Linked DNA regions of Homo sapiens: region 2 is linked to region 1. The links come from fine-mapping of genetic effects on gene expression. Tissue or cell type: lung. Region 1 holds a variant in brackets; the other region holds the start of a gene. All regions are shown on one strand. Distances are between the middles of the regions.

Region 1 (2,762 bases):
AAAAGGGAAACAAAGCTGGCAATAAAGGGAATGGTTAGCAGGAAAGCAAATAATTGAAGACAGCAACAGATGTAGGTTTGTTGGGAGCGTGAGGCTCCCAGAATAAATAGGTGGAGAGGGCAATGGGCATGGTGGGGCTCTCACCCGGATGGGGATGATGTGGCTGGGGCAGGGGATGACAGGAAGGCCCCTGTCCATGAGTAGCTGGCGCATGTGCTTGACATTGCGCTGGTGGGCTCGCCTCAGGGCTTGGCCCTCCTCTCCCTTGAGCAGCCGCACAGATTCTAGAGCTCCAGAGAGCACCATGGGGGGCAGAGAAGTGGTAAAGATGAAGCCTGCAGCATAGGAGCGCACCATGTCCACCAAGTCACGGGTGCTGGCAATGTAGCCGCCCACACAGCCAAAGGCCTTGCCTGGAGACAGAAAGGAATAAGATATACACAGATCCCATAATCAGTCCCAGAGCAACAGGATCATGTGCCAGATAACACAAGGGGGTGCACCAGAAGTTGGGGCTCCAGGCTGTCTTCCCAGGCCTCTGCTCATCTGTCCATGACAAGGCAGTCGTAGCTGATAATTCTGCTGCTTTGAGATAGGACTTTCAAGTCTTGCCATATGCAATGACTAGATAGGCAGGAGCTGGGTGGGGACCTTTAGCTGGATAGGGTCAGGAGTGGAGCTAAGATGAAGCTTGGGGCTAGGGTGGGGGAGGGGTTTAGAAACACAGCTCTTCACATACTCAAGTTGAATCTAACTATTTGGCCTAGTTCAAGGTCTTTTCAAAAAACTCTACCAGACTTTCTCATCAACTCTGCAGTGGGATGCGAGTGGAGAGAGGGAGTCCAGGATGGCAGCAGCCTGGGGCTGTGAATTCTGTCCAAACAACCCCTATAGCTTTGGGGAGGAGGCAGAAAAGAATTTTGTAAGGGCCTCCTCTCTGGAGGGTATATAAGAAGGCCCAAAGCATTCACTTACCAAGAGTTCCAGAGATGATGTCAATCTTATGCATAATTCCATCACGCTCCCCAATCCCAGCGCCCCGGGACCCATACAGTCCTACAGCATGGACCTCATCCACGAAGGTCAGGGCCCCATACTGGTGGGACACATCACACAACTCCTCGAGGGGACAGATGGCACCTGAGCAAAGCCAAGGGATAGAGGTAGGACATCATAACCCTTCCCCAGCTCCATCTCCAATGTGGAATTTCCCATACATGCCTACTTTGGGTTGGAAAAGGGTGTTGTAGAGAGGAAGGAGGATGTGCGCCTTCATTTAGAACTATTACAAACCTCTGTGTATGGATCGATTGCCTGTATCTCATCCCTGCCTTCTCTCTCTCTCTCTCTGTCTCTCTGTGTGTGTGTGTGTGTGTGTGTGTGTGTGTGTGTGTGTGTGTGTGTGTGTACGTGTGTGTGCGCATGTGTGTGTGTTCCCCAGCCTGGGATCAAGGCTTGACTCTTTGTCTTTCT[G/A]TTTTTACTTCATTCTGACAATGTCTATTTTCCTGTTTCTGCTGTGTTCAGCCTAGCATCATTTCAATGGGAGAGATTCAGCCTAAGGATCAACAGTTTGGGCAGAGTTTGCACCCCAAAAATAGGTAAATAACTATTTATTTGCAAATGTAACGAGGTAGAATGGTACCAACATAGTTTCCACTAGAGAAATAATGAATTTGAATAGTCTCAGTGGTAGAAATATACAAAAGGGATAGGATAGTTTTACTTTATTGCTAGTGTTAGAAATGTGGGAGTGGGCATAATAGTAAGTTTCTTACATATATTAACTCATTTAATTTGCATACCTATTTAATTATTATCACTTACATTTTTCAAATAAGCAACTGAGAACTGAGACACAGAGCAATTAAGAAGCTTGCCCAAGCTAGTAAATGGTCATGCTAGGATTTGAACATGGATAGTCTGGTTTTAGAGCCTGTGTGTATAGTCATTACATGCCACTTAAGATACCTAAATCAGGGAATACTATGGACTCTTTTGTTTCAGTTGGAAAAGGGACAAACTGAAATGAGTTGAGGACCTCTTCCCTTAAATAAATCCATAAGAGGATGCCTAAAACACATGATTTCTACACAACAGGGCCAGCAATAGAAAGCTTTGGACATTGTTTCAATTGAGCAAAGAAAGGAGGTAGGAGTGTGAAGATCATTTAATTCTACTAAAGCATAATAACTAGAATGGTTTCTATCATCTCTAATTCTTACAACCAGATATTTTACCTTTGGGAAAATTGAGGCTTAGACAGTTAAAGAGTTACCCATGGTCATAGCCAGTAACTGTCAAAGGTGGGATTTGAACCCAGGTCTCTCTGACTTGAAAACCTGTTTTGACCCCAATGCTTCATACTGGACCTTGAAAAAAATCCTAGGCAATGGTTTTTGAAATTTCCTTCATAAAAACCAAACACTGGGATTATTGATTTACATATCATTTCTAACAAGAGAAGTGTTACTCGAGGAATTGGAGTTATATGTGTTAGGGTGCAGATACTCACTTTAGCACCAACTTGCTGAGCCACTCAAGATGAATTGGATGCCAACTCTGAACTTTAGTTTCTTTACCTATAAGATGAATGTAATAGCTGCCTCCATTCTTTGGCATTTACTAGCTGTGTGACCTTGGACAAATTACTCTTATGTCTCAGTTTCCTCATGTAAAAAATCAAAATAATAATAACACCTATCACATAGAATTGTTCAGAAAATTAAATGAATTAATACATGTAAAATACTAATAATTTTGCT
Region 2 (2,762 bases), 22 kb before region 1:
AGGCATTAATCCTGTTTTATAGCTGAGGAAAGTGACACTCCAAACAAAAGTAAGCACATATTTATTTTTCACCTTCTATTTGATAGAGACTATATTAGGTGATTTATGTATATTATCTCTCCAACTTGAAAGACACAGTTCCCAGGACTATAAGCATTCTAGCTCTGGAGGACCCGTGTATGCAGAGAATGGCTTGCTTGTTTGTCAACTAAACAGCCCCTTGGAAAAGGCCAAGAGTGGCTGGCTGGGCGAGGGTACCTCTCAGTCTCCAGGCTCCTAGATCTCCAGATGAGTGAGTGAGAGAGCTGGTGGAGATAAGAAAGAGAGAGAATAGGAGCCTAGTCTTTTTTCTCTCTCTTCCTCCACCCACACCCTACCTCCTGTATATTATAACTATATTTAACATCCTATATGCTCCTAGATCCTCTAAGCAACTACTGCTACCCCCAATATCCCTAAGCCTGGGCCTCCTCTAGCATTAGCAGACTGGAAACTTGGTTAGCTGGCCTTTGGGGTGTCTGAGTCCCACAGTCCACAGCTGCCTTATCTTAACCCACCTTATGGCCACTCAGGCCACAATCCCTGGGCTGGATGCACCTTGGTCCACCACTGTCGCCTGTTATCTATGGGAAATGGTACACTCCAGATTTTGTTTTAAATATGTACAGGTTTTGTTTTGCCCTTGATCTTTCTTAAATTTCCAAAGTGAGCACCACACCAGTGGGCTGGCCCTGAGAGACTGCCTCTCTCAAATTTCCAGAGCAGCAAGGAAGTCCATATGTGCCAGGAAGGCAACACTGGAGACAGGACATTAAGTGTTTCCCAACCTAGGCAGGTATAGACTCAGAAAAGGCCTGAGAAAGGAGAGGAGCAATACTGACCAGTGACATGGCACTGTTGTGTACCCAGCACCTGTCCCCTGAAAGATGATGCCAGGAGCCATCACCTTATTTCACCCAGGCACTATCAGTCAGGCAAGACCAACTCCCAGACACTTCACAGAAGTCACCAAAATGAAACATACTAGGCTATCACTGAACAGTCCTAAACTAGAAATCTTAAATTCCAAACAAGAAGCATTCCAAACAAGCTCTGCATAAGAAAGGAAAAGTTCCTAAAGATCCCTCTGATTAAGATGGTCTTAACCTAATCCTCCTTTGTCTTCATCTCTCTTTCCGCCTGTCTTCTCTCTCATTCTTTTCCTCACGTTTTTGACACTAGCCTCTATTTCATCCAGTTGTTCATCTATTCCAACTTTTAGGTTGAGGTAGGAGTGGATGGCAAGGGGAGGTGCATCCTTTGCTCTTCTACACCCACTCTACCACCACCACCTTTAAACCCACGGAAGCAAACCCCACTTACAGCCCCTTCTCCGTTGCAGCCTGCTGCTGCCGCTGCTGTGTGGAATCCAGATCTTCTGCAACCTGGTTTGGGTGAGCTCTCCCATCTCTGGAGACATCTTAGGAGTCGCACCGAATGACATCACTGCCCACAAGGTACCTGGCCTCACTTCCTATCTTACTAGCTGTCTTTTCTCTCGCTGTGGCCACAGCAGCAGGTGGACAGGGCTGGGACAGGGGGTGTACTGGGTTTCTGAGCCCTCTCAAAGTCTGTCTTCAGTCCCCTCTCTTCTTTCCTCTGGTCCTAGCCTGCCTCTGCTCCTGTATGTACTAGTGGGGTATTGGGTGCAGAGGGCGAGAGGTTGGGCAGAGGTCAGGAGAGGCCTCTGAACTCCAAGGGCTGTGTACATAGGAGGTAAGTTGGAGCCCAACAAGGAAGGCAGCCAGCAACACAGCCCAGGTCTGACCAGTCACTTCCCTCCAATGAAGACAAGACTAATAGAGTATGCAAATAAAAGACCAAAGATCATGTGCTTACAGCCTGTGTGGGGTATAGAGGCAAAGGTGATGGAGGTAGGTCTCAGCGGCTTTCCCAGCTTTGAAATAAAAAAATGGGCCCAAGTAGAATGTCAAGCTCCAACCCAGAAACCAAGATTCACATCAGAAATGCAAGGTTCCCAAGGACAAAAACACAAACACAAAGTCCCTACTGGGGAATGCAGTGTTTTGAGCTGGCAATTAGAGGCCCAAACTGGACATGGAAGGTCCACTACTTCTCTGCTTCCCCGACCCAAAATGGCATTGCATCCCTTGTCTTCTCTGGATTCTGCTGCCTTCCTTGCCACAGGGCCTCTCCCACCTGAAATGTGCTGCCTGGAGCACTCTTGAAGAGATGGGCACTATCCGATCATCTTTCTACTCTCTCCAGCCAAGGGCTAAATAAATAGGAGTAAACTGACACCTTTGGAAGAGTGCAGCCATTGCCTGGGGCTGGAGGTGGGGGAATGGTAAGCTCTGCCCACATGGCTGTTAGCCACCATCAGATGCCCTAAGGAGAATGACACTGGCATCATGAACTGATAGAAAATTTCACTAAAGTTCCTCATGCCAAGCTATTAGGATGGAGATTTAGGAGGGTGGAGGCTGCAGCAGGGAACAGAGAGCAATGGCCTCAAAGTAGGACAAGTCCATAGGCCAGAGTCATCCAGCCCAGATGACTCACTCTCACCTGCCCTCTCCCGCTCCCCTGACCCGTTGTTTTGAGGCTTTTATGTGTATAACTCATAGAACTGCACAGCTTGCCTCGAAGATGCACAAGTGTCCTCTTACTTCACTCTTTTGCAACCTTCCCACCCCCAATGAACCTCCAACGATTGGCTATGAAGAAGCTCAACTTTCTTCCACTGAGCTGGGCTACACAAG

What was found. PIP is the estimated chance that this variant, and not a neighbour inherited with it, causes the effect. A credible set is the group of variants that fine-mapping cannot tell apart.
Region 2: it holds the start of PFKFB1, and the variant in region 1 is the best candidate, but not a certain one, in a credible set for the expression of PFKFB1 in lung (TOPMed, PIP 0.83).

Annotation. Positions count from the first base shown.
Region 1 is chrX:55,014,603-55,017,364 of GRCh38, forward strand. ALAS2 (5'-aminolevulinate synthase 2) reads right to left here. Exons shown (of 11, transcript NM_000032.5): 8 at 976-1,140; 9 at 145-413. Among named protein-coding and RNA genes, the nearest start is that of ALAS2, 15 kb to the right of the region's middle. RefSeq lists enhancers at 414-874, 414-816, 578-816. The variant G/A (reference allele first, on the strand shown) is at 1,474.
Region 2 is chrX:54,992,549-54,995,310 of GRCh38, forward strand. It overlaps PFKFB1 (6-phosphofructo-2-kinase/fructose-2,6-biphosphatase 1), which reads right to left and starts at 1,640. Exons shown (of 14, transcript NM_002625.4): 1 at 1,363-1,640. The coding sequence starts at 1,459.